Linked DNA regions of Homo sapiens: regions 1, 2, 3, 5, 6 and 7 are each linked to region 4. Evidence: fine-mapped expression QTL. A gene starts in region 4. Each other region holds a variant in brackets. All regions are shown on one strand. Distances are from middle to middle.

Region 1 (4,079 bases), 34 kb before region 4:
CCATTTTAAAGTATCCAATTCAGTGACATTTAGAACATGGCACAATGTTGTGCAGCCATCACCTTGAAAATTGCATTTTTAACAAATGCTCCACTGCTGCAGGTGGTCCCCAGACAGCGCACTGAGAATAACTATGCTAAGATGATGGGTAGAGGTGGCAAGGAATGAATCATGGATTTCTCTCAGATTATAACAGAAATTTTTAAAAGTTAGCTTTATCAAACATCAAAATCTAAAAATTATGCCTTTGCCTTTACCGATCACCAAATATAATCCAACACCAGGAAGCTAGATTGTTTTCATGGTTTTCTGTACTAATGGACTCAACATTTATTGATTTGAATGCAACCAGTATTCTTATCCTTATAAAGAAGTACAGGGCTAAGTGAAGTAAAGTGAGAGAAGTGGGAAAAAATGAATCACTGCTCTGTGATTAGTTAGTCCAGGTCCTTGGGTTATAATTACATTATTATAGCACATTATTAATTTCAACTTCAGGAAATGAAATTGTCAATAAACACAGAAGTCTCTGGAGAAAGAAATGCAAATTAGGTTTCTCCTTATATTCAAACCCTCATCTAAATGTAAGTAAAACTAATTATTCTGGTAAGGCTTAATACAGGCTGGGCGTGGTGGCTCATGACTGTAATCCGAGCACTCTGAGAGGCTGAGGTGGGTGGATTGCCTGAGCTCAGGAGTTCGAGACCAGTCTGGCCAACATGGCGAAACCTTGTCTCTCCTAAAAATACAAAAATTAGCCAGGCATGGTGGTACACGCCTGTAATCCCAGCTATTTGGGAGGCTGAGGCAGGAGAATCACTTGAACCCGGGAGGCAGTGATTGCAGCAAGCCAAGATCATGCTACTGTACTCCAGCCTGAGTGACAGAGCGAGACTCCATCTCAAAAAAAACAAAACAAACAAAAAAAAGAGTTAATATAAATACACAATGGCTGCATTAAGATGTTGAGGTCAATCACTGTTTTCAGGGTTGCAGAATCGGTTTTCCTAGTCTTAACTCATGACCTAGTTACTCAAGAGTTGTCCCTAACCTTAACTCATTTTACTCCAGGTCAGATTCCTGTGCAGGTTCCTGGAATTTAGCAACTACAAAGATCAGCCATGGTGACAAGCATCCAGAATACAATGGTGTCTTCCTAACAGCCACTAGTGCTGCTTCTCTGGACCACTACCCTGCGAAAACAACAAACACAGAACAAGATGAAACCCCATCACAACATAAGAAACCAAGATGGACAGACAGCTTATAATGCCAGAATCTTGGAAACATGTCCAGAAACTACAAGACCAGAGAAGCTGGGCTGAGGAAATAAGAACTGGCCCACCCTGCTTTGCCTCATGACACAGAGCCCTTCACCTAGATTAAGAGAGGCAGGAAGACAGCCTGAGAAGGGATGGCACTAATTTAAGCAGAGGAGAATTATTACCTCCTCTACTTCTGTGTGCTTAGAGATCACAACTCCCAGAAGACAATAGGCAGGAAAAGAGAAGGTCTGGCAGTGCTGGCACACTGTATCCTGAGGAATGTCCCCAAAAATAAAGCCCTGAAAATGTGGAGATAGGAAGAGTCTGGGGTTCTTTTAGCCTGTCAAAGAATTAGAGTGCCAAAAAAGAAGAAACTGTAACTAGGTGGGTCAGGTTCAATAGAGTAGAACACTTAATGCCTATATGCCACCAGGAACTCTGTGAGGTGTATGCATCAACCTGACCTCAAGCTGCAGATTTGAGAAGGAATCAACCAGGAAACAGTGACCAGAGGCCACAAGACGGCCACACATTCTGTGTGTGCAGATCCTTCACCACTATACTCCAAGGAAGAGCATCTAGCTGGCAATGACTTCCTATAAAAATAAAGATTTTAGAAAAGTTCTATTCAGAAAGGTTCAGGAAAAGGATGGGTCCTGTGAACACAAGCGTAGAAATGCAGTACAATGGGATGAAATAAATGGAAAAGAAAATGAGATGCAAAAAGACAACTGATTAGGTT[A/G]ATTGGGTTTTGACCTCAAGTAGATCTGGGTTTGAATTCTGGCTTTTTCAGTTGTTAGCTGTGTGGCCTTGGACTAATCGCTTAATTTCTTTAAGCGGCTCACACTGATAATCCTAGCATTTTGGGAGTCTGAGGTGGGAGGATCACTTGAGCCCAGGAGTTTGAGACCAGTCTGGGCAACATAGCAAGACCCTATCTTTATTTTTTTATTTTATTTTTTAAAAAGAAGTTTTGATTTCTTCATTGGTAAATGGGATCAAGAAACCATTTACTATCTCACAGGGTTACATTGAGGTTTAATGCTACTAAATACTATACTATACTATACTAACAAGCTTGGAAGAAAAGGGTACTGATTGAAACAGAGACAGCATTGCAAAAAAACTAAAAATACAATCAACAATAATCTATGTTGGAGATATTAAGGTGTAGGATTAAAATTGCAAAAGTGTCTAAACTGGTAATGCAGAAGAGCTCCAAAGCCTGAGAAAAAGGACAAAAAAAATGAAAAGGATGAGAGAAAAGCTGAATCAGGGATTCAACACAGTAATTAAAGATATTTTTGAGACATAAATCAAGTAGAACAAAAGCAATAAGCTAAAATAGGAACAAGGAAAGCCTCCTGGAGTGAATAATCATCTCAGCATGCAGTTTCAGGGCTCACTATATTTCAGGCAAAATTAATTTCAAAACATTTTAAAGACACACACCTAGATATAATTCAGCAAAAAATGTAAACTATGGAAATAATTTTTTAAATGCCTCCACAAAAGGCTTCAGGGACCAGCTAAACAGAAAGATCTTTCCAACATTCTATAAACTATTCCAGAGCATAGAAAAAGATGGCAAAACTAACCACATTATTTTATGAAGTGAGCACAACCAAGACAACAAAACCTGACACAAAAAAGAAACCACTAACTCTACTTCCACTTCTGAATTGATGCAAAAATCCTAAATGAAACCCTAGCAAACTGAATTCATCAGTATAATAAAAATACATAGGCACGGTCAAGTTGGATTTAACCTAACAAAGCAAAGATGATCCAAGATTAAGATATCTATTAATATAGTATCAAAATATAAGACAATCCTATTTAAGGTGATCCTCATTTTCTCAGTGAGAAGCTCCAAATGTTACTACTACCAGCTTGAATAAATATAGATGTTTATGAAATAGTCAACTATCTGTTTGAAAGTACAATTATACATACACATTTGCAATCATATAATAAAGGAAATATTTATCTTAAAATATTTTTCCATTCTCAAATATCATGAAAAAAATTGTATTCCACCTCTTCCCATGCACTCTTCTTTCTTTCTTTCTTTCTTTCTTTTGAAACAAGGTCTCGCTCTGTTACCCAGGCTGGAGTACAGTGGCGCAATCTCAGCTCACTGCAGCCTCAACCTCCTAGGCTCAAGCAATCCTCCAGCCTCAGCCCCTCCAGTAGCTTGGACTACAGGCACATGCCACCACACCTGGCTAATTTTTGTATTTTTTGTAGAGACAGGGTTTCACCATGTTTCCCAGGCTGGTGTTGAACTCCTGAACTCAAGTGACCTGCCTGCCTCGGCCTCCCAAAGTGCTGGGATCACAAGCGTCAGCCACCAGACCCAGCCTCCCATGCATTCTTGATGGGAATGTTATCACAAGAGCCACTTAGAGATATTTAATACAGTCTTCCAGAACTAGCATCTTCACTTCTGTCTGAGCACATTTAAGCCCACGTACAATACATTAATCCATATATACTTTCACTTTAGAAAATCATTTGTCCTGAAATTGTCTAATTGTGATCTCTAGAACAAAGACTTGTTTTATAAACTTATGACTTCCAATTCTTGCAACAATGAGGTCATTTCCCAGGAATAATTTTGCTACACCAGTGTTACATGTCCTAGCATCTTTTTTTTAATTGATTCTTTCTAGTGACTTCTCTAGGCATTCAAAACCAGCACTGATCAAAATGCTATGCCAGGATATTCAAAATAAATTAAATTGAGAATGACTCCCAGAATCTGAGAGATCTTGTTAAGGGCTGAAATATGTCTACCTTTTTTTTCTGAAG
Region 2 (4,079 bases), 180 kb before region 4:
AAACTGTATAAGGTGTCACAGGAATTACAGAAAAACATTAAATTAATTAATAATTTTTTGGAGGGTGTGCAAGGTACTGTTTTAGATACCAGGAAAAGTATCTCTACTTAAGAAGCTTAGAATGAATTGGGAGAATAAATGTCAATAAAAGGCAATACATGATAAATGCCAAAGGAGTGGTAAGACACAAGTTAATTTAAGCATTAATTACTTTGAAGAGTAAGCACTACAGAACTCCAGAGATGGAAAGTCTATTTCTGGTTGGTTGGAGGGGAGACTTCCCAGAGAAGGTGAGACTTAGGGGATGAAGGCTTGCACTAAAACATCAGTAGGATTCAGAGAGGAGGATGAGCAGGAACAGGACATCCCAGGCAGAGTGTGGAAGAGTACAAGGTGAGAATTCACCAAGTTTGTTTGGACTCTGGATAGTTGAGCACCCTGGCTGGCTTGAGGAGGACAAAGTAAGAATTGTTAGGAAAAGATGGGTTGCGTTAGTACCTCCAACATATAGAAGTTAGAACTTTATTCAGTAGGTACTTGGAAGCAAGTAAAATTTTTTTTTAGCAGGGATGAAAGGCCTGTTTTAGAAAGACACATCTCCATGTTCATTATACTCTGATTACTAATTAAGTTTCTAGGATGACCTGATAGTACAAAAAAGTTGCTCTATACAACAGCCAGGAATAACTCTGTCACTGGAAGGGGATAGTCTACATTGTAAATACGTACCTTAGCATTCTGTATCAGAGCAGAAAGAAACCAATTGAAGAGCCTAGTCGGGGAAGTACTGAACCAGTCCAGGGTTGGATTGGTCAAGTAAGTCTAGACGATGAATAGAGCAGGAAAAAGGACTGCTAGGTCTGGAATGGCATCACTGGAAGAACACGTGAGAGATGTTGCTTTTGGAGGAAGATGAATTGCATGACATTAGCAATTGAACGTGTAGGTTTAGAAGTGCTGATGGATTTGCCACAGGTGCACTCTCACTCACACTCCTCAGCACGCTAGGAATAAAACTGAAACTGCAACATGGCCCACAGTGTCTGCGTCATCTGCCCTGTCTCCTTCTTGGGATCACACTCTGACCACATTTCTCGGCCTCCCTTGCAGTTGGGTGTGTGCTGGCGGAATGTGAGTGCGGTTGGGAGCACCACTTCCAGGCAGGCCTGGGCCCAGAAAACCCTCTCATGCACAGCCTTCCATGCAGAGAAGCACGCTGGCCTTGGCAGGTCATTAAAAATGGCAGAGCTGCAAAATGAAAGGAGCTGTGGTCTCCAAGACACTGCTTTGAACAGGGATATCTAACTGCTCAGGAATATCTAGTTTGCACTTCTGCAAATGAGAAATAAATGTCTATACTGTTCGAATGTCAGTTTTGGTTTGTTCCAGCAGCCAGCGTTATCTTAACTAATCTGTCATTCTCCCAGTCTCATCTCACCCCACTGCTCTCACTGTGTATGTTCCAACCACACTGGTTTCCTTCAGTTCTTTGGGCACACGAAGCTCTGTTCATCCAGTCTAGCCCTTCCCTGCTGCAAAGGTCTTTGTGTTAGCTCTTTC[C/T]TCTACCTGGAGCACTTTCTACAACTCCTTGCCTGATAACTCCTTTTCCAGGTCTCAGATCAAATAACACTTCCTCAGAGCAGATATTTTTTGACCTCCCAAATTAAATCAGGGCAACCCCTGTTCATCTTCCATAACACGTCTTACAATTTATCATTATATATTCATTTAATATATTTAATATTATTTAAATTATATTTGTTAAATTAAATTAAATATATTTAATACATGTCTCCCTAGAAAAGTATATGATCCAAAAAAAGCAGGGATCATGACTCTTGTTCACCAGTGTACTGTTCATTCAGCACCTAGCACCGTGTGGGTGTTTGAGAAATATTATGGAATAAATGAATGAACTGGAGTGCTGCAGTCACAGTTAGATTTGAGAATGATCGCAATAGGGACAGATAGAGAGTGGAGAGAACAGAGCAGCAGGCTGAGAAACAGCCCCGGGAAACACACACTAGGGTACAGCATCTACCTTCCACCCCTAAACAGAGGCCGTGGAGGAGAATAAAGTTTAGAGAAGAGAAACTAATTAGAGAGATAATGATTACAGAATGAAGAGCACTCAAGTTCTTGAGGGGCCTTAGACATCATCTAACCTGTTCTCCCCTTTGCATAGATGAGGAAATAGAAGTAAAGTTCCCTGGCTTAGCTAATTGGTGTCCACGTTGGGGTGGCCATACTAAAAATGTTAGAATTGTTCTGTTTGCATTGATACCTGAGAGGGAATAGGATCAAAGTCTTTAAATTTGTGGCCAGGATAAAACTGTGGTCCTACTGCCAGATTTAAGGGGTGCCTTGTGAAGGTCTCATAATGGACTTAAATGAACCAATGTCTCCTAAGATCTCAACTCCAGGACATTTTCTCCTGCAGGGATTAAAGAGAAGGGGGACTGTTTGAAAACATGAGGAAGGGACATCTAGGTCATTATTTGGTTGTGTTTGCTCTCCTTCAAGTGAAACACTTATCTGAATGCAATAAAGAGGCTTCTTCAGACAGATGAAGAGCAGGCCCTGTGGGCCATGGAGAGAGTCAGTTTCCTCCCCAGTGGGACTCGTCTGCTTTCCTGGAGAGTGTTTTCACTTCCATGTTGAAGCTGGAACTCCAGCCTCCCGACAGACAATTCTCCCTAACGCACTCCCCTCTGCACTAGGGACGGCCGCCTCTTGTATTAATACAATTAAATTAGCCCGTCAGTTCCCTGGTATCCTTTGAACACTTGAGAGAAAGTCGGCAGCTTACTGGGGCTTTTCCAAGAGAAATATGTGCTACTAAAAAGTGATTTCTACACACATCCCTCCCTCCCTTGATCACGAGGTAATTACTGGGCTATGAAGGCCGCTGAAGCTGGGTCCTGGCAAAGCTAAGTGTGTGCTGCTTTCCGACTGCCAAAGGGAGCAGACAGAGCCCTGGCCTTGGTCCACTGGGGCCTGCACCACTCTTGCAAGCTTCCATGAGTGAGGTCAGTGGCATCCAAGTTCCCACAGAAACAGTGCTGGTCTCCTCGGCTGGAGGGCTTGATCAGCCATCTGCTTCCCTGCTCAGGCTGCTTTCCTAGTCGATCCAGCCCAGAGCCCTTGCAGAGCTACAAATGATGCAAGTGCTATGAAGACCAGAGGTCTTCCCCCATGGGATATAGTAATGTATTCGTTTCTTCAACAAATATTTACTGAGCATCTACCCTGCACCTGTGCTGGGCTAGGAACTGGTTTTATCCCATTTGATGGTTATTTATTGAACACCTACTTTGTACTAGACGTTGTACTCCAGTGCTATTCCCTGCAGGCAAGGAGCTGGAGGTCTGGTCAAGGGCCTATTTGTTGTTTCAGTGCCCTTATTCTCCCACCCGAGGGCACCTGGCAGAGCCAGACAGGGCCCCTGGCAGTCCTGCTGAGTGAAAGGTATAAGCAGGCACCCAAATGGCTCTAACAGTCTTCAGCCATTAACGTTCTTTCATTTCAAGGAGCTCACATAAGACACAGGCACAGTGAGACTCTTGCAAAATGAAACAAATGCCAGGGAAGAGAAGTCTCTCAGGATTTGCAACTGCTCACTGCAGATGTAACCAAAATGTGGAATGAAAAAAAAAAAAAGATCCCTTCAGACTCAGTTTTTGTGGAAAAAAAAAAGTGTTTCACTTCAGCTCAGCATGATTTTTAAAAAATCAAAACTGATTCAATTCCCTTTTCCTTTCCTTGCCACCCCATCCGAACCACCCTATCACTGAGGTTAGAGGACTTACTTGGTCAATGTCATCACATAAGCCTCTCTTAAGGAAAAAAAGTAGAGAGTAAGTTAGAGAGGATGGGAAGGTTGAGAACTGCCTACTGTTTATATGACAGAAGAAATGGAAACCACTGTACAATTCTAACTTATCAAGCAGGGTGAAAACACCACTAGGAGCAAAAGGGAGAGAGCTCAGAGGGATCAGGAGAAATCTTTTGACATGGCAGATAATTAAGACACTAAAACTAACAACCAAAGGCAGAAAGGCAAGCTGTAATTACCCAAA
Region 3 (4,073 bases), 220 kb before region 4:
CAGTCAACACTGTGCTGTAACAACTTCTGCTTCCCCATGCCACCTTATGACTTTGGGGCTTAGATATTGAATACTGGGATAACCAGGAACCTCTGCCAGCATCCAGGGAGGTGGCATACTTTAAATGGCTCTCAGCTAAGTTGGAGGCAAGGACTAACTGGAGCGGGCAGAGTACGCAGGAGACATGGATAACCGGGGGGAGTATGTTGAGCCACAGAACCCAGAAGCAATTGGAACGTTCTGAAAGGGAAGGTAAGGGAGGGGCCAAGACGAGTTTGGCCTCTGTGACCACCAAGACTCAAGCTATCTTAGTCTACACATAGGAGACCAAGCTTGTGTCTTCTTTAACCTCAACTCCTGCCTTACATTTTTTTTCCAACTTCACTTTCCTTAAGGAAACCACTAGTTTATCTTCACTGTGTCTAAATCAAAAGAACACCCACACCCACCCTGTGGAAGAAGGAACGCCTCTGTAAACATGGATTGATAACTAAACAGCATCAGGAAGCACATCACCTGCCCTTTGTAACTAGTCCTCGGCATTTGCAAGACTAATCTCAGCACCAGGTATAAGTGATGGAGCCAGTTTTCTGCAGGGAAGTCACACGTGGAAAAGCATTTGTAAAAAAGCATGAACAAACGAAGGGGGAAAATCTTAGGGAAGGATTGGAAGATGAAGGGGGAAAATCTGAGTCTGTTCAAATCTGGAGACCATAAAAAGTGTTTGAAGCCATAAGCTTATATCTTGGAGGAGATCCCAGGGTAAACAAAACTTGCCTGAGGAGTCTGGATAGTGTAATAGTCCGCCCTGATTTGACGAATGTGCTGAAGCCCTCCCAGCTAATAGAGAACAAGCCCTTTGAAGCTCCAGATACAGACTTCCCTAGAGCAGGCAGCAGGGTGGAGCTGCCTGGAGGCTGAGAATGCAGGGTCTGCAGGCAGAACGTCAGGGTTTGGAACAAGAACCAGAGGGAAATCAAGGACTAAAATGTCATCCTAAAATCAGAAGGTGGTTAGGTCCTTGGAATTCAACAAATCGAACACTCATCCTACTAGTATTACCTAAGCCAAGCCCTGCTCTGAGGCAGATATTCCATGAAACAAAGCAGACACGGGCCATTTCTACTGATTAACAATACAGTGTGATGACCACTCCTATGGGAGATGCGTGAGTCAGGAACTCCCATTCCAGTTCAGCGGGGTTAGGAAAACCTTCCCAGGGAAAGGGGCCTTTCAGCTTAAACCTGAAGGATGCGTTAGTCAAGCAAAGAGAAAAGAGAAGAATGAACTGCACCAAGGGACTCACCTGTGTTAAGCCCAGAATCACGAGGGTGCTGGTGGACTGGAAGAGCTGAAGGAGGTTCAGGAGTTCAGATGAAAGAAACTGGGATTATTCATACTGGAAAAGGAAGGCTAAAAATTGAATGAAAGTTTTCATTATAATAAGGTGTTTATACAGAAGGCATGACCTCCTGCACTGAGCCTTGCTCAAAAGAAAAGGGGCTCAGGGGTTCCCAGAACTGATCCAGACTCAGGGATGGGCCAACCCAAGTAGAAGGGCCAGAAGGCATCAAAGCACCATCCCCAGAGATCCTCAGAACCCCTCTCAGGGAAAGCCTGTGTGGGGTTGGGTGGAGTAAGACCCTTGGCAGTGAGGGTGAGATGGTCCCAAGGGCTACTCTTAGTAAGAAATAAGTGGTTGTTAAATTGCTTTCTAAAAAAGGCAGTCAGTTATCTGTAGGGCTTTCCTTTTGCCAAAGGGTGTTCCAACTGGGACCAGACCTGTGTGCTTGGATCAGAGGGCAAGGACTGGGCAGCGCCCAGTGGCCTTCCCTCTCTAGCTCTTCCCAGCAGGGCCCTTATTCCAATATTAATGTCCCAACATTAAAAGAACATTG[C/G]CCAGGTGCAGTGGCTCATGCCTGTAATCCCAGCGCTTTGGGAGACTGAGGTGTGTGGATCACCTGAGGTCAGGAGTTTGAGATCAGCCTGGCCAACACGGTGAAACCTCTTCCGTACTAAAAATACAAAAGTTAGCTGGGTGTGGTGCTGTGTACCTGTAATCCCAGCTACTCAGGAGGCTGAGACAGGAGAACTGCTTGAACCTGGGAGGCAGAGGTTGCAGTGAGCCACGATTGTGCCACTGCACTCCAGCCTGGATGACAGGGTGAAACTCTGTCTCAAAAAAAAAAAAAAAAAAAAAAAGATCACTTTGAAGGATCACCAAGTGAGTAGCCTTTCCAATGTGCTCACAAGTCTCACTTTGGCTCTGTCCATAGAAAGGAAAAGGACCTTGACTATTCTCTGGCTACCTCTTCATTTTTCCTCACCTCCTGCCACAATTCCAGACACAAAATAGAAATCAGAGACAGCTGTGTGCTCAGAATGCCCACCTGGAACAGGAGGACTGGTAGCCAGCCTGGGACGAGGGTTCAGGTTCAAACAAAGGCTGGTTTTTCCTTCCTGTCTCCTCCCAGCTGGGGCTCCTTCCCACCCTCTTCTGCTCCCTCTACTATGGGGCCCAGGAGACTGGGGGAGAGGGCTGGTCAGGCCACTCAGGAAAGAGCCATGGGGGCCAATAAACACATGGAAAAGTGCAAACATCTGGCAGTGAAAGAAACACAAATTAACATTTTAAAGTCTGTCAATCCAGCAAGAATCTTAAAAATGTATAATAAGTACTGGTAAAAGTAAGGTCAATCTCTACTCACTGACGATGTTATGGATAAAACCTTAGTAACAAAGGGAAGGGCTAATGGCACCCACTGCTTACTGCTCAATGCCTTCCCTGTCCCAAGAGAGGCTGTCTCCCGCCATCTGGGGATGGGTTAGCTGGACCTAGTTTGGCTTTGCTTAGTAACTAGATGTTTTGGACTGGGGTGATCACCAGGATGACATATTCTCTTTTTTTTTTTTGAGATAGAGTCTCGCTCTGTCATCCAGGCTGGAGTGCAGTGGCCCGATCTCGGCTCACTGCAAACTCTGCCTCCAGGTTCAAGCGATTCTCCTACCTCTGCCTCCTGAGTAGCTGGAACTACAGGCACCCGCCACCACACCCAGCTAATTTTTGTGTTTTTAGTAGAGATGGGGTTTCGCCATGTTGGGCAGGATGGTCTCGATCTCTTGACCTCGTGATCCACCCACCTTGGCCTCCCAGAGTGCTAAAATTACAGGCATGAGCCACCCGCCCCAGCCGGGATGACATATTCTAAAAGCACCATCAGCGGAAGCCCACAGCAGCCCCAGTCAGGTCCTGTCTTCAGAAGGTGACTCCCCAAAACTGTTGCCTGAGAAGCAGGGACTTTGCCTCATCCCAAACAGTAAGAGGGGTGGTGGACATAATGACTCTGGCTTCGCTACTTAACTTTTTTTTTTTTTTTTTTGAGATAAAGTCTTTCTCTCACCAAGGCTGGAGTGCAGTGACGCAATCTCAGCTCACTGCAACCTCCATCTCACGGGTTCAAGTGATTTTCCTTCCTCAGCTTTCTGAGTCACTGGGATTAGAGGCATGCACCACCACACCTAATTTTTGTATTTTTAGTAGAGATGTGGTTTCGCCATGTTCGCCAGGCTGGTTTCGAACTCCTGACCTCAAGTGATCTGCCAGCCTCGGGCTCCCAAAGTGCTGGGATTACAAGCATGAATCACCATGCCTGGCCCCAGCTACATGGGGCAACAATGTTGCCAGTTTAGCCATCAATGTATTTTTCTAACCAGGTTGTGTTGACCAGTAGGGAGTCCTCTAATTTATATATTAATCCAAAACATGCTATCTGAACCTAAACATAGTTTTTGTTCCTCTTTTCAAAGATAGATCCTTGGCCAGGTGTAGTGGCTCACACCTATAATCCAAGCACTTTGGGAGGCTGAGGTAGGTGGATCACCTGAGGTCAAGAGTCCCAGACCAGCCTGGCCAACATGGTGAAACCCAGAGGCATGGTGGTATGTGCCTGTAGTCCCAGCTACTTGGGAGGCTGAGGCAGGAGAATCGCTTGAATTCAGGAGGTGGAGGGTGCAGTGAGCTGAGATCACGCCACTGCACTCTAGCCTGGGTGACAGAGCAAGACTCCATCTAA
Region 4 (4,079 bases):
TGAACTCTAAGAGAATAAAGTGGGTGAGAAAACTGGAGGAAAAAAAATGTTTGGGGAAGCAAGGCTGCTTTAGAATCAGCTACACTGAGAGGCCTCTAAACCTTTCAGAGTGCCCAGCTTCTCTACTCATCCTTTACTTCATAACCATGGGGTACTCTAAATACTAAAGTTTGTTCTCCAAGACATAATTTTGGTGACTGGTGGGGGAGGATGTTAGGGGACAAAAGCAACTGATTACGGGAATGGGTTTTTTATTTTATTTTGTTTTGAGATGGAGTCTTGCTCTGTCGCCCAGGCTGGAGTGCAGTGGTGCGATCTCGGCTCACTGCAACCTCTGCCTCCCGAGTTCAAGCGATTCTCCTGACTCAGTCTCCCGAGTAGCTAGGACTATAGACGCATGCCACCACACTCGGCTAATTTTTGTAGTTTTAGTAGAGACGGGGTTTCGCCGTGTTGGTCAGGCTGGTCTCGAACTCCTGACCTCAGGTGATCCACCTGCCTCAGCCTCCAAAGTGCTGGGATTACAGGCGTGAGCCACCGTTCCCGGCCCAGGAATGGGTTTCTGAAGTTGGTATTTGCTTTCCTGTCCAACTCTGTTGGAAGGGAGGAAGTTGGAGAAATGAATGGCCCTTCCATTCTTTTGCAATCTGAGTTCAGTTCTCTTACTTCAAAGCAAATGCAGAACCCTTTGGGCAAACCTCACCTTTCCCTTCTTCTTCTTCTTTACTGGCACATCCCTTTACTCCCACAAAGTGTCCAGGGTGAGATTTACACAATGTAGGGGATTCCTAATTACACGTAGCAGCCAAGGTCAGAACCGCCAAAAGTACTAAGGTGGATGGTGAAGGGAAGCATCCTTTACTCCCATTTCTAACCTTGGCTACAGCTATTTCTCACCCTTAGCAACACCCAATCTTTCCTCTTTATAAAAGCCTTCAGACCACTGCGCATATCTTTATCACAAGTAAGCCCTCCCTTCTCTTGATCTTAGGACCACGTGAGGCTAGGGTTGATCTGACAGGTTATGCGAACACACACTTGGGAGGGCAACATTCAAATATATATCCCCTGTCAGTAGCACAGTAAGCTCAAAATATTTTTGTTGAGTAAACAGCATATGTACTCTGTGAAGGCATGCAGGTGGTATCCAACAGTTCCCATTTACTGTATTTAATATGGTCATAATAACTTCAGGGTCTTAGAAATATGACAATCGTATTCAGATTGAGGGGAAAAAAGGCCAATTTCATAAGCCCGGGACGACCAGTGGATGCAGGAAAAGCACAACGGACACTGCCTTGACCACTTTCTAGCTGTGCGATTCTTATGCCAACGAGCCTTTACAGGCTTCCTGCCTCGTCTGTAAAACGGGGTAAAAACAACTACCTCATGCACTGTTTCAATAATTCACTTTAAAAACAACAAAGTGCTATGCAAATGTTCTTGATATTCTTAGCCATCTAACATCTATGCACGCTCTACATTTATATTTCCTTCGTTAACTGTGGAGCCGTTCCTAAAGGGAAGCTTTTAAAGCGATAATGAAGATGCTCAGAAGAGTTCAATACAAGGTTACATGTGAAAGGAATGTCAGCAGCCTAAGAAAAATCAACCTAGCATCAGGTTTCATTCCAGGGGTGTTGAGAACCTGGAAAAAAATAATCTTTGGTGGGACACTCCTAACCTATCACCGCTGGGTTCCCACGGGCCAGGGTCGCACCCACGGCGAGCACCCCTTCATTTTACCTCTCCCCTCGTCTTTGCTCCCAGCCCACGCCCTCCCCAGCCTCCCACCTCAGGACCGCTCCGCCTGCCGGCCGCGGCGCCCAGCACCCGGCATTCCCATAAACCCCTTCGCCCGGAGCTTCAGAAAACGAAAGACAAAGCCACCCGCCCAACCCGGCGGCCGGGGCGCGGGTCCGCGGGGCGCCAGAGCCGGGCATGCGCAGAGGCCGCGGCGGGCTGCCGGCCTGGAAGAGCGAGGTTGGGGCGAGAAGCCGCCGGGACCCATAACTGGGTCGGCGGTCCGAGCCCCGCCTGCCAGCGCCCGCGGCCTCAAGGGCCGGGTAGGAGCGGCAGGGCGCCGGCGAAAGGCGGGGCGGGGGCGGCGCGGGCGGCGGGGGCGCCGCGTACCTGGTAGCGGCCAGTGAGCAGCTGGCTCCGCGACGGCGTGCACAGCGGCTGCGTGTAGTAGTTGTCCAGGAGCACCCCGCCGGCCGCCAGCGCGTCCAGGTGCGGCGTGCGGATGCGGGAGCCGTGGAAGCCGACGTCGTTCCAGCCTAGGTCGTCTGCCAGCAAGAAGACCAGGTGGGGCGGCCGGCTGGCCCCGGCGCCCGAGCCCGGCGGCGCCAACAACAGCAGCAGCAGCAGCGGGAGGACGACGGGGAGGAGCAGCCGCCGAGGTCCGGGGCCTCGGGGCAAGCTCGCCGCGCCGCGCGGACCCATCCTTGTCCGCCCGCGGTCCCAGCGCCTGTGGCGCCACCAGCCCCTTGTACCGCTGATAGAATGAGGAACTGGGCTGCCGGGGCCTGCTCCGCCCCGGCGCGGGACGGCACCCCCAGCGGGCCGTGGGCTTGCGAGGCCGGGCGCTCGGCCCCCGCCGCCTCCGACCCGGGCCCCCGGCTGCTGTGGCGGAGGAGGAGCCAGAGACGAACCCGCGGGCGCCCGCTGCCCGGCTTCTTGGAAACTCAGCTGACGCTTGGAGGGCACCAAGGCCCGTTATCTTCCCCGGCAATTAAATTTGCACTGTGGTTTCCTAAAAAAAAAAGATGTGTTCTTTAATAACGCTTCACAATTTACAAAGCATCTTCACAGCCCGCGTCTCCTGTAAAGCCTGCAACAACTCTGACAGTTAGACATTATAATTAGTGCCAATTTTTCATAAGAAAAAAGCTTATAAATGGTTAAACCTCTGACTCAGATCCTGAACCATGATGTCTAGCTAGCAAGTCATTTCTAGCACAAGAGCCCAGCCTGTGGCAGGTGGGAGGACGGTGAAAAGGCAGAGGTCTAAATAGCCTTTCACATTCATTTATGCGTAGTGTACACCCATGAAGCCGCTTCCTCCCCACTAGCAAACAGGAGGCCAAACACACAGTCTGATTGCACGGTGCCCTTTGGAAGGTGCGGTTACTTTCAAGTTGCCCTGGGAGGATTTGGAGTGTTGCGTGGTCATTGAATAAATAGCTCATTCGCTTGTCCGGATATGACCCCACTCAGAGCTGGCTCCCCCACTAAGCAGTGACACTAAGAAGCACACAGTATCTAGTTAGCCTGAAATATCTGAGTGGAAGGAAAAAATCCTTTAGTCACGTGCTTATTGAATTAGGAAGTTAGCCGTATGACCAGTAGATTCCCGTTGCCATCCAGACTTTCTGTCTACTCTGTCTGGAGATATTATAGTTGTTAACAGGTGTAGGGGAAAATTTTTGCATTGCCTAGAGACCATACCCTTCCAGGTTGAGTCTGATTCCGTGGAAGTTGTTTACAACTTTATAAGTTATAGATAAATAACAATGGAAAATAATTCTTATTTATATATACACAAATGAACTTTATCCAGCGGAGTAGCAATCCTTCCCCTCCACCACTACCAAGGAAAACAGTTTCACCTCCGCTTGCATATTTATTTTAGTATTCCTGATCTGTTCTTTGGATTGTCCTTTGAATTGGTTTTAACACCTTACCAATTTCCTTATTAATGAGTTAAATAAAATCATGTATTCACTTTTATATTTGTATGAGGGTCATGATTTTACCTTTTTTTCCCCAAGAATCCTTTAACACATGAAATGTTTGCCTCTTACATACACTTTTTTTCTTTGCATGAAGTAGATTAGTTTATGTTGTATGCACTTTAATCTCTAGTGGAATCAATGAAATTTAGCAGAAAAAAGTGAAAATTTTAGCATTAAATTCAAAGAATAACTTTTGAGAGAACTGTTTGACTCATTATGTCAAGGGTTGAACTTTTCATTTAAACACCCTGTAGAAGACCTTGAAGGACTGAGAATTTCCGCTGTGGTTTTGTGTCTTTCTCCCCCGTAATCCTTCCTATTCTCCTTGATAAAAATTAAGAA
Region 5 (4,079 bases), 170 kb before region 4:
GCAGACAGATGATCCTGGAGCACGTTCAGGGAGGAGGGCAGGAGCCAGGTCTGGCTCAGCTCCCCAAGTCAGCGGCACTTCTTGCCTTCAGCTGAAGCTGGGAGACCCATCCTACGGTCAGGCTGAGGGCCGCCAGAGCCTGCGGCCAGGCCTAACACTAGGCAGAGACGACTCTGCAGCTGTCTGCTCACACTCACTGCCAGTCACGCTTCACTCCACTTTCCTGCTCTGAAAATCACGTCCTGGCAACCTGCCCATCGGACCTGGAGCCAGCCTTGCCCTCTCCACTGCGGGCCTGTAGGCCTGGCCTTGAACCCCAGCCTGCTGACATGCTTCTCAAGCTACAGGCCCATTGCTTTGGCCCTCTGATTCTGGCTGACCATGGGCCACAGAGAGGAATAGGGGGCAGCTGATGCTGGCAGTTGTAGACTGCACAAGCAGGACCCATCTCTGGGCCCTTTCCATCAAGCCTGGTCTGGTGGCCAGTGTGGTGGGCACCCCACTAGACCCCTTGATCCGGTAGTGAGTTCCAGAAGAAAAGGCACAGCTCCAAAGCTCATCTGGAGCAAACTCTGTTCTCCTAATCTCCATTCACTTCTCAAATTTCCCGACCCCCGCAAGCTTCACTGGCCTCCTAGAACCTCCCTACCAAAGGAAAAGGTTAAGTGGTCATTTCTTTAACTCTCATTTCTCTTTCGGGGACAGAGCCTGCTATTCAGGGGCATCAGGGAAGCAGGGGAAATAAGGATGGGAGTGATTAAGTGCATGTCCAAAACCAGCTCTCTGATCTCATGACTTTCTTGTACCCTTGGTACAAGTGCTCCAGAGAGAACTGAGTTGTGAAATGACAGGTAAAAACAGCACAGTGAAAACCCTTCTTGCTTTGAACAGAAAATGCAGTTGGTGCCTGTGAGTTATTTGTTTCTCCTTTGCTTTGGAAAGAGATTGTCTAGAGAATTTGGAAACCTACATCCCATTTCAGAAAGCAGACCAGATTTCTGCTGACAGTTAGTTTGGCAGGGGGTAGAGTTTGTCTGTTTTTGCCATGAGAGCTCGTTTTCTGGGGGACACACCACACGGTTCTAATTCTAGATGCCAGCAAAGCTGCGCCTTTAACCATGAAACTTGAATTAGCATTGAATGGCTTTTGAGTTTTTATTTAGGATGCATTTTAAGAAAATACAAGGCCCTCCAGCTGCAAACAGTAAGTGCCACCAAGGACTATGTGAGTTAAACATCTTTAGGATCTGTAGTCAGCCTTCCTGTGCTTTGGGAGTTTCAGGAACTTTCAACCACAGAGTACTGTGTTCAGTTGTGTCAGAAAATGACTGGGGTTGGATTTCTCCTAAGCTCTCAAAGGCTTTGAATCTTTGACATAGTGTTGTTAACATAGTTAAACTGTTTTCTACACAGAAGGCTTACTCAATACAACAAATTAGCAATACAAGAAAAGTTAGGTAAAGTTTCTATAGAAAATTCAGATCCTACAATGTTAGATTAATTTAACAACATGAAAAAATGTCCAGAGCTGTAGGTGTGATGAACTGAAGGCTCCCCCTGCTTTTGGAGGCAGCAGGAGCGCAGTACAGAAGCATGCGTTTGACACTCACAACCCGCTGCCATCCTATCATCATGTTAGGTTTCATCTTTCCAACTGGACTGCAGTTGCTGAGGTTAGCCTCCGTATACTATCCTGGTCTTGCCCCCATTTCCTAGTACAGTGAAACAATGGATGCTCTGGAATGTTTGTTGATTAAATAATTGAGATCACACATGGATACACTAGAAACTTTTTTGCAGGGCAGCATTCTTTCGGTTAGTGGGATTCTGTTCTGGGTAGAGAAGCTGCTTCCCTCATTCTCTCCCTAAGAACCTAAATTCCATCAAGAGGACACAATCACACCAGCAAGAGAAACTAGTAGGACAACTGAAATTCATCACAGGAGGCCACAAAAGAGTTAATTCAGCTCTGATATGAGGATTATGAGACAAGGGTATAAGGATTACACACAATGGATTTATAAAAGAATACAATTTTTTTTAAAGGACAAAAGTAGTGACTAGGGACGTTTGTTTCAGATGAAGAAATAACCATGTTAACCTTTTAAACATTTGCATCTGTGAATTGTAGCGGCTCAACATAAAGCAGATTGC[C/T]TACATCCACTGCAGCCATTCTGGCATGAGAAAGTTCTCTTGCCTAAAGCAAAACAGATGTGTGAGAGGAAAAAGCAAAGTCTCTTATGGGTGTATCAACATTCATAATTATATAGTTATCTCAGGAACTATAGATCGTGTGAAGCAATGAATATGGAATCCTTCCCATATTTTTTCCCTAAAAACTCAGTATAAAAAGCAGAAACTTAATATTGAAAAAACACTAATTATAAAGGCAGATGAAAAAGTTAACAGTGTATTCACATTTCATCCATACATTTTTTTTTTCTTTTTGGCCAACTGAACTAATCCTGTACCAGTGATTAAATATTCAGAATTTTTGGCCAAGTGCTGCCTAAGAGAGATCCACTTGACTGTTCAAGCAATTAGAAAAAGTGCCACATCCTTGCATGTGCCTCCAAGCAGGAAAGAGCACATCAGGGACATCTGCATATGTGTTCACATATGGGATTCACAGGCAAATCAACTTGGAAATGGGAAAGTACACAAAGGCTACCCCACTTGAGATGCAGGTCAGTATTTACAGAGCAGTGGGCAGGTGCTCGGCTGTCTGCTAGGTCCTGGGAAAGGTACAGGAGAAACACAGGCAAGAGCATGGGCACTGAACAGGAAGGAAAACAATACCCTGGAGGGCACAGCCCCCTAGCCCAAAAGAAGAGTATTTACAGTGGGGAGGGGAGGACAGAGCATGGACAAAGTCTCAACAAGCAATCATCCGAAACCAGGCTGGGAAAGTTGTTTAAGGAAATTTCAAGTTTGAATGATATGTAAAACGTGTATATGTAACAGATGAGAAGTGGCTACACAACAATCAAATCAATTTGGTAAAGATAAATGCTAATACGATTAAAATGACCCCAAATATTTGTATTATCACATTATTATAGAAATGAAGTCATATGAACATTCTGTTCAAACACACACACACACACACACACACACACACACACACACATGATATCACAATTTAGCATTAAATGCAGCTTAGAGGGCTTGAAATTGTACTGGTACACATGAGTTTAATAATAATTGATGGGCTGATGTGGTGGCTCATGCCTGTAATCCCAGCACTTTGGGAGGCTGAGGCAGGTGGATTGCTTGAGCTCAGGAGTTCAAGACCAGCCTGGGTAACATGGCGAAACCCTGTCTCTACAAAATACAAAAATTAACCGGGCATGGTGGCATGTGCCTATAGTCTCAGTTACTCAGGAGGCTGATATGGGAGGATTGCTGGAGCCCAGGTGATCGAGGCTGCAGTGAGCCGTGCTCACACCACTACGCTCCAGCCTGGGCAACACAGTGAGACCCTGTCTCAAAAAATTTATAATAATAATTGATGATAAAAAAGTTTACAAATTATGTGTACAGAGATGGAATAAGTAAATTTCTTCCTTCCTTCCTTTCTTTTTTTTTTCTCTTGCTCTGTCACCCAGGCTGGAGTGCAGTGGTGCAATCTCGGCTCACTGCAACCTCTGCCTCCCGGGTTCAAGTGATTCTCCTGCCTCAGCCTCCCAGGTAGCTGGGATTACAGGCATGTGCCACCACACCGGCTAATTTTTGTATTTTTAGTAGAGATGGGGTTTCTCCATGTTGGCCAGGCTAGTCTTGAACTCCTGACCTCAGGAGATCCACCCACCTCAGCCTCCCAAAGTGCTGAGTTTACAGGTGTGATCCACCACGCCCAGCCAATATATTTTCATGAACAGTTTTTCTACTTATGCAGTTATACAAATTAAACATGAGATATAATCTCTACCTGAAGTCATATAGCATTTACTTATCACTTTTAAAAAATGCAAGGCCAGGCACAGTGACTCACACCTGTAATCCCAACACTTTGTGAGGCTGAGGTAGGAGGATTACTTGAGTCCAGGAATTCAAGACCAGCCTGGGCAGCAAAGTGA
Region 6 (4,079 bases), 150 kb before region 4:
GAGGAGAGAAGTAAAACACTAACAATATATTTAATTCAATATATCCAAAGTATTATCCTTTCAACAAATAATAAATCTATAATATTGTATGCATATAATACATAGGTGTACTAAGTCTTGAAAATCGGATGTATATATTCTACTCACAGCACATCTCAATCCACAGTTAGCCATATTTTAAGTACCTGACAGCCACATGTGGCCTGTGGCTACTATACTGGACAGCACAAATCTAGACTGTTCTTACAGTCCTTAGGGCTCAAACCTTGCCCTTGCCTCTCTCACTGACATGCGTTTACTCCAAAAGAAATAGAAATTTCTCCACGATGTAGCCATTCTCGCCTGTCTCAGGGCCCTTTCCTGTCCAGGTCTTAATGTGTCCACTTGGTCTTTATTGCATCTCAACTCTCCAATTGTCCACTGAGTCATCAAGTAATCATTACTGAGTGCCTAGCAAGCTCCCAGTATTTGTGTTAACTGACAAGGATAAAAAAATACAGGAGATGCTGACTTCCAGGAGCTCTCAGCTTGGAAATGCAGGCACAAACACGAACATGTGAGGGATGCTATACGGAGACACATGCACACAGGAAGGAGTGACTGCTCCTTCTGGGGCTCTGGAAAGCATTCACAGAGGGAGACATGGGGCTGGGTTTTTAAGGGATGAGAGAGATTATAGACAGGTAGGGAAAATGTGTTTCAGGCATAGGGAAAAGCATATTCATGACAGTACGATGATCTGCATGGAGATGACAAGTGTCTAGGAAGTGAGAACATGACAAGGAGTGCCTGGAGTGAGGCTGGCCGGGCAAGTGGGGCCCGAGTGCCTGGTGACACATTTAGAATGACTGTGGGGTAATTCTCTGAGCAGGAATCTCTGAATGAGAATATTTTGTGGTGAGCTATAATGCAGTTTGGAAAAAACAAAGAAGTAAGGAGAGCCTGAACTAAGTGGGCAGCAGTATGTCCAGAAAGGAGCGGATGGGAGCCCCCATGTGAATAAGGGAATATAAGGGCACTGTTTGCAAGATGAGCATTATGATGAAAGCTGGGCAAAGGGTCTAATTGCTAAGGCTTTCTATGCCCAAACTCACTATGCTGAGGGCATTAGGGCCACTCGCATGGTATTTATACAGGCCTATTACAGTCCGTTGTGATCTGGAAGCACTACATGCATGCCTGCCCTGAAGGAAATGGTAAGGCTCTTTACAGGTTAATTTAGGCAGGAGGCAGAATCAAGCGGAATCACTTCCAGGACTGCTAGGAAAGTCACACTTGTGACACCCAGCAGGTGTTGGGCAGTACCTGACCAGCCCAATCAGATAATGTGGTTGCTCACACTACCTGGAACCCAACTGTGGCTTATCTGACTGTGAGTTTTCTGGAAGGTGGCTCTGGAGCTCTCAGGTAAGAACAGGGCAGCAACATGACATCTACAGTGAGAAGGAGCCTCAGAGATGCCATGAGTTCTTCTTTTGTAAATGGGGAAGGCTGGGGCAGGGAGAGTTCAATGGCTTAAAGGCTAGTAAGCGGCAGAGCAAGAATAGAATTCACCTTTCTTATTTCATAAGCTGGTGTTGCTTTCACAGCACACTGCCCTCTGAGATGAGCGGGAGATATGTCCCGAAGAACTGTTTACCTTTATAGCAACTCAGGAAAAAAGAGAAAGCTAGGCTAGAGACACACTAGGTAATCAAACCATCTTGGTGGGCCAATTAGATTTAATCTAGTAGCAATGCACTGGTACTCACACGGTGAAGAGTCCACGAAGTTCGGGTCAATATTATGCAGCAGCTCAATTCTGGGGGATGGGCTTCCTTCACTGGAAAACAATTTTTAAGGGAATGT[T/G]AATTTCCTCTCTCTAATGGGCATGAATTATTTTAATACTTCCCTTCCTTGTACTTATAGGAAATAACAAACCTGCCAGTTAACAACTCTGTCATGAATTTGGAGGTCTCCACAATCACGGCTGGTGCATCTTCAAGCAGTCATCGTTTGTTTACATTGACCGAACCCTTTACATAAGAACTTCAGTGTCAAGCATATGAAGATATTTTAAAAAATGATTCTGGGACCCTTTGAAATAAATATTGTGGCCTTATTTAAACATGACCATTTTTTACACCAGAGAAATGAGAACTCAAGTCACCTCATATAGACTTCATACTGAACACTTACGAGTAAATGAAGAAACTGCATCTGCCAAAATGGTGGCACCAATATTACAGATGCAACATGCCTCTTAAAGAGTAACCTACATCAGAAAAATTAATGTCCTCCATGTCCAAATTTGCAACACGGATCTTAGATTTAATATAAATACATGAGAAATACCTAGATCTCTTTAAGGCTTTAAAAAATGTGTACACACAAATACAATCACAACCTACATTTGTGCTGAAAAGTGACTTGGAGATCGCTTAGTTCAACCCCCTCTTCTTACAAATGATGAAGGTACATAGTAAGTTATTGGTAGAATATTGGGTTGTGTGACTCTCAAAGCAGTGTTCTTAAGAAATTGGGAGCATAAACATCACCAGATGTATGTAGGGAGCACAATAGGCACCCAGGTCATTTTGCTAGTGTAGACTCAGCCTTACAGAAGTAGCTAAAAACAATTTAAATCATTGAGGGTGTACTGAGGACTCCCTGATAATCTAATACAGTTCAGCTAAGTACTAAAGGTTGCAAAGTACTGTTAACACCACAGGATTCATACATAATATAAATAATCAATAAGGCTCCTGACGTAACCAAGACATGGTTTCAGGTGTCCCAGTGTCCACACGCCAAACTCACAGTTAGCTGTTGATAGCAGTGGTTTGGGATTTCAATGCCCAATACAATTTCAAAAAATCTGGGTTGTGATTCACAACTTTGTATTTGCCAAGTAAGGAAATATAAAAACAAATCTTAATGAATTAATTTAAAACAAAACAAAATAACAAACTTCAACTACCATCACCATTATTTTATAAAATAAACAGCAAAAAAGGTAGGAAAGACACGATCTCTGAATAAATAACAGCTCCTTAAATTGAGCATATTTAACTTTGGTATTCTATCAGATGTCATTGTCCCCCTCTACTCCATAAATCACAGTGATCAGAGACAGTGGAAGAGAAACATTCAGGGGTGCCCACGGTCCTGGGACAGCAGCGGCAGCACTGCAGGGGTGGGGGTGGGGCATATTTCCCAGGACCTTTCTTTTCTCATTTTCTTTCGGAGACACTTAACTGCCTGAATATCCTGGAGACTATCAACCAGTCCAAAATGCCAGGAACTACGGTTTGATCCCAGAAGCTCTGAATGGAAGTAGAAATGATATGTAAAGAAAATGGTAAATATGAGAAAATCTAAATAGAATGATGATGATGTCTAATTTGTGGGCTTAAAACCAAACAAGTATGCCAGGTACAATGGCTCACGCCTATAATCCCAGCACTTTGGGAGGCTGAGATGGGAGGATCCCTTGAGGCCAGCCAGGAGTTTGAGACAAGCTTAGGCAACATACTGAGACCTGGTCTGTACTACTACTACTACTACTACTACTACTACTACTACTAATAATAATAATAATTTGAGCATGGTGGTGCATGCCTGTAGTCCCAGCAACACAGGAGGCTGAGGCAAGAGGATCCCTTGAGCCCAGGAGTTCAAGGCTGTAGTGAGCTATGATCACACCACTGCACTCCAGCCTAGATGACAAAGTGAGACTCTGTCTTAAAACAAACAAACAAATAAAACCAAGCAAACAGAGTTAAAATCCTGGAAAATAATAGCAAGCAAGGAAAGGAAATCAAATGAAAGCATTTTAAAGTATTTATATTGTTTGGAAGTGGGGTAAAGCTACTGATTAAATTTAGATTTAGCTAAGTAAAACTTTTGTGTTAAATTTTTAGGGCAACTATTAAAAATAAAGGCTTTTTCTGGACTATAGGTTGAAAACTCAAAAATTTCAGGGCCAGTATATTAATACATAACTACGCAGCTTTAAAAGTAGAGTTCACTGTAATACCCCAAAATATTAGGCACAATTAAATAAAAACATTTTCCTAATAACTTTAGAGAGAGTTTAT
Region 7 (4,000 bases), 210 kb before region 4:
GCCAATCAACCAACATTTATAGAATATCTGTGTGCCAGGCATTGTTCTGGACACTAGGGATATGAGACTTTAGCAATTATCTAATTCAACTCATCACTTTACCAGGAAAAAAACCGAGGCACAGAGAGGATGAAGTGATTTGTTCATGGTTAGTCTACTGCTAAATAGCAAAGTTGAATGCTTTTTCTACCATCTCTTTTCAAACAGCAGCATTTGATAAATGCATGTGGACTTGACAATCTATTCCCCAGGAGGCTAAACGAGACCATTTTCCTCTGATGTGGTGTGAAATAAGTCCACAAATCTGACACTCCCTTTGAAAAGTAAGATTTTCCTCCCCTAGAATATGGGCTGGCCTTAGTGACTCATTTCTAACAAATAGAAAAATGGTATAAGTGACAGTGTACACCTCTAGAGACTAGGTCATGAAAGGCCCTGTGGCTCCCTGTTTATTTGCTCTGGAGGAAGTTAACTGCCATGTGTGAGGACATCCAAGCAGCCTGTGGAGATGCCCACATGGCAAGGAGCTGAGGCCTCCAGCCAAGAGCCTTGTGAGTGAGTCAGCTTAAAAGTGGAGCCTGCAGCCCCACTCAAGTCTTCAGATGACCACAGGCCTGCTTGACAACAATCTCACGAGAGACCCTGAGCCAGAACCACTGGGCTAAACCACTCCCAGTGTCCTTACCCTCATAGAATGTGTGAAGTTATGAATGTTTATTGTTTTAAGCTGCTAAGTTTTGGGGTAATTTGTTACGCAGCAATAGAGAGCTAATACTCTCTTTTACTGTCACTTTGTTTTCACTCCTACCCTTCCTTGACCTCCCTCTAATACCTTATTTTATAGTTTATATTCTTAGGGCAATGATTGACACTTTTTTTAGTTCTAAAATTTTTACTATATTTATTTATTTAACAGCTTTACTGAGATATAATTTATGTACTATAAAGTTGGTTGACACATTTAAAAATTGTAATAAAACATAAAACTTAACATTTTAACCACTTTAAAACATACAATTCAGTGGCAGTAATTGCATTTATGATGTTGTATAACCATGACCACTATCTAGTTCCAGAACTTTCTCCTCACCCCAAATGGAAGCCCCATACATATGGCTGACACATTTTAAAAGATTAATTTTATTTTGTCCCCCAAATCTGGGGGGACAAAAGTAACAAAGAAAAATGAGCTCACAATTAAATAAGCAAAACCTTCTGTAAAGGTAAAAAAATTTGCCGGGCACAGTGGCTCACACCTGTAATCCCAGTGCTTTGGGAAGCTGAAGTGGGTGGATCACTTGAGGTCAGGAGTTTGAGACCAGCCTGGCCAACATGGTGAAACCCTATCTCTACGAAAAATACAAAACATAGCCAGGCGTGGTGGTGTATGCCTGTAATCCAGCTACTTGGGAGGCTGAGGCAGGAGAATAGCTTGAACCTGGGAGTTAGAGGCTGCAGTGAGCCGAGATCACACCACTGCACTCCAGCCTGGGTGACAGAGCGAGACTCCATCT[C/CAA]AAAAAAAAAAAAAAAAAAAATTGGAAAGAAATAACATTATTTCTAACAACAATATATCAATCTTTTCACATTCTTATATAGAATCAGAGAATCTAATGAAATACATTCTATTATGGATAAACCAAAATCTCAAGTACTTGTTTTACAAAAAATTAAGTCTTCAAAACTCTTTTGAAGTCCACTGGGTGCAGAACATCCCCCACTGTGCCTGAAAACCAAGGAACTAGAACTGGAGACAGCTGTTGGGAGGACAGCAGCGATAACAGATAGGTGCCCTGTAGCGATGGCCTCCAACGGCTACCTACACCCAGCCCTGGGATTCGGAGGATGCAGAAGGAACATCTGGGCTCAGCTATTTCATGCTGTCGGCCATACACTTCCAAGTGGGAGGTGATGGCAGTTTGGTCAGCTGTTTGCCAACCCAGGAGTTGGGTAAAGGTTGGTAAGAGATGTTATTAGTTTTAGCACCATTTCCTTCCAATAGTCTCATTTTAATACAATACAGGTTAGTAGTGACCAGAAAATATTGCTACTGAATTGAAGGATGACTATACAAGGACTTATATCAGATTATTTGTTGCTTTTAGTTTCTAGTGTCCCATAAAGTATAGAAATGGAAATTGCTGACAAGAGAGTACCTTTGGTAGGCACAGTTCCTTTTCTCCCCCCACTGGAGAGGACGCTACAACCTTGCTATAGAGTGTCCTGTGACTGCCCAGTGATGTAGATTATGCTCCTACCCCAGGAGGGGCAGCTTGAGAACAGAAAAGCAACAGCTGGAAGACATTTATATTACCTCTGTATTCAGCTCATTGGACTAGCATCTTTCATGGTGTGAGACTTTCTCATTTACTCATTTGTCCATTTATTCATTTGTTTTAAAAAATGAGGCCAGGCATGGTGACTCATGCCTGTAATCCCAGCACTTTTGGAGCCCAAGCTGGGATAATTGCTGGAGCCCAGGAGTTTAAGACCAGCTGGGCAACATAGGGAACCTTGTCTTTTCAAAAAATAAAATTAGCTGGGTGTGGCGGTATATGCCTGTAGTTCCAGCTATTTGGGTGCCTGAGGTGGGAGAATCACTTGAGCCCAGGAGTTTGAGGCTACGGTGAGTTGTGATTGTACCACTGTACTCCAACCTGGTGACAGAGTGAGATCGTCTCATAAAGATATAAAAAATTAAAAATAAAATAAAAATTAAAAAATGAGTGCCTTCAGGCAGTGTTCCAAGCATTGGTGAACACAATGGTGGGGCTAATGCAGAAAAGAGTATCATTTTTGCACACATTTCTCTGGGTTTGACACTCTCTGGAGCTAATATGGACTGTTCCACATTAGTAAGACATTAGTGGGATTGAGAAAGGGCTGCAGGTGTCAAACTGCATCCTCTTTGCCAGACCCCAGAACCTCAAAACAAGCAGTAAAACAGAGAATAAGAGGACTGTGGGTGTGCCCTCCTCTGCTTTACCAAGGCCCAGTATCCCAGACACTGGCCACTTGCTTTTTCATATCCTTTCCTGAGGTTTCTTCTCACTGCTAGTAAATAGCAGTGCAAGTCTTAATATATTATGAAATAAAGCTACAATCACAATGACTAACTCCATGCAATATAGGAAAAGCCTCGCTGAACAGATGCCACAGAGCCAAGCATCTCCCACCCAGCCCTCTTAGTGTCTACCATGAACATCCTCACAGAGCAACTCCACCGCCTATTACGGGGAGGCCTCTAGCTTCAGCCCTAGGGGCAAAAGTAAGGCAGGGCTCAGCAGCGTTCCAGAAATCAGGGGTGCTCAGGTAGAGAAGCAAAGTGGCCTTCCCAGGGATAGGACTACTGAGGTCAAAAGGAAAGGCAGGAAAAGCCACAGAAGAATTGGAAGTGGCAGGAAGTCTAGACAGAGTGAGCAATGGCTGGGGGGAAATAAATTACGATAAAAACACATTTCTTTATTTTAAAAGCCACAGTCATGGTGCAGGCATTTTGCTGTTGACCTGAACAACAAAATGGGCCTTATGCTCTGTGATGAGATAAGTGAGTAAGGGGTGAACCAAGAGGGGTGGTTCACTTGGAGTGCCTGAACATGATCCTTCACCGACAGGGAGAAGCCTTGGCCAACAGAACCATTAATCACTGTCTGCTCCCTTCATTTGCGTAAGAAATGTGATTCACTCCAATAAAACTGGCTATTGGCAGAGGGGAATCGAACGTCTGACTTGTGAGTCTAAAAGAGCCAGCTGTTCCAGCCTCCAGGATTCAGTGAGAACTTCCTATTTCAAGTTAAGTTCCCAGCTGTCCCAAGGCTTAGGAAAGGGGGATAAACCCAGCCACCCCCACCTCTAGACACATGCTCCAGCCAACAGCAGGAGTGTTGCAGATTTTATCAGCTTCTTAAATGCATTAGGGGTTGAAATTAGACACCTCGGTGTGGTTTAAGAGCAAGAGAAGGGCCAAGTGAACCCAGGTTGGGATAACAAATGAGACAAGAGT

Direction of the effects. Alleles are on the strand shown, and positions count from the first base shown. SD is a standard deviation of normalised expression in the study named. Not every link is listed here.
For the expression in monocytes after interferon gamma of the gene that starts at base 2,507 in region 4, allele G in region 3 goes with a lower level than allele C (small effect, 0.37 SD a copy in Fairfax 2014).
As copies of T replace C in region 5, the expression in monocytes after interferon gamma of the gene that starts at base 2,507 in region 4 goes down (large effect, 1.4 SD a copy in Fairfax 2014).
With allele CAA in place of C in region 7, the expression in monocytes of the gene that starts at base 2,507 in region 4 is lower (small effect, 0.32 SD a copy in Fairfax 2014).

What was found. PIP is the estimated chance that this variant, and not a neighbour inherited with it, causes the effect. A credible set is the group of variants that fine-mapping cannot tell apart.
Region 1: its variant is the best candidate, but not a certain one, in a credible set for the expression of ARSB in whole blood (TOPMed, PIP 0.53).
Region 2: its variant is the best candidate, but not a certain one, in a credible set for the expression of ARSB in blood mononuclear cells (TOPMed, PIP 0.64).
Region 3: its variant is the best candidate, but not a certain one, in a credible set for the expression of ARSB in monocytes after interferon gamma (Fairfax 2014, PIP 0.68).
Region 5: its variant is the best candidate, but not a certain one, in a credible set for the expression of ARSB in monocytes after interferon gamma (Fairfax 2014, PIP 0.86).
Region 6: its variant is the best candidate, but not a certain one, in a credible set for the expression of ARSB in prefrontal cortex (BrainSeq, PIP 0.69).
Region 7: its variant is the best candidate, but not a certain one, in a credible set for the expression of ARSB in monocytes (Fairfax 2014, PIP 0.68).

What each region holds. Positions count from the first base shown.
Region 1 is chr5:78,949,007-78,953,085 of GRCh38, forward strand. All of the region lies in intron 4 of ARSB (arylsulfatase B), which reads right to left. Among named protein-coding and RNA genes, the nearest start is that of ARSB, 34 kb to the right of the region's middle. The variant A/G (reference allele first, on the strand shown) is at 2,008.
Region 2 is chr5:78,800,567-78,804,645 of GRCh38, forward strand. All of the region lies in intron 6 of ARSB (arylsulfatase B), which reads right to left. Among named protein-coding and RNA genes, the nearest start is that of LHFPL2, 150 kb to the left of the region's middle. The variant C/T (reference allele first, on the strand shown) is at 1,561.
Region 3 is chr5:78,765,452-78,769,524 of GRCh38, forward strand. It overlaps LOC124900191 (a long non-coding RNA gene), which reads right to left. Exons shown (of 5, transcript XR_007058832.1): 2 at 2,391-2,601; 3 at 1,307-1,413. Among named protein-coding and RNA genes, the nearest start is that of LHFPL2, 120 kb to the left of the region's middle. The variant C/G (reference allele first, on the strand shown) is at 1,899.
Region 4 is chr5:78,982,804-78,986,882 of GRCh38, forward strand. It overlaps ARSB (arylsulfatase B), which reads right to left and starts at 2,507. Exons shown (of 8, transcript NM_000046.5): 1 at 2,134-2,507. The coding sequence starts at 2,445. RefSeq lists a silencer at 1,830-2,689.
Region 5 is chr5:78,809,502-78,813,580 of GRCh38, forward strand. The region is part of intron 6 of ARSB (arylsulfatase B); the gene reads right to left. Among named protein-coding and RNA genes, the nearest start is that of LHFPL2, 160 kb to the left of the region's middle. RefSeq lists an enhancer at 183-683. The variant C/T (reference allele first, on the strand shown) is at 2,155.
Region 6 is chr5:78,837,605-78,841,683 of GRCh38, forward strand. ARSB (arylsulfatase B) reads right to left here. Exons shown (of 8, transcript NM_000046.5): 6 at 1,752-1,822. Among named protein-coding and RNA genes, the nearest start is that of ARSB, 150 kb to the right of the region's middle. The variant T/G (reference allele first, on the strand shown) is at 1,849.
Region 7 is chr5:78,776,337-78,780,336 of GRCh38, forward strand. ARSB (arylsulfatase B) reads right to left here. Exons shown (of 8, transcript NM_000046.5): 8 at 873-4,000. Among named protein-coding and RNA genes, the nearest start is that of LHFPL2, 130 kb to the left of the region's middle. The variant C/CAA (reference allele first, on the strand shown) is at 1,515.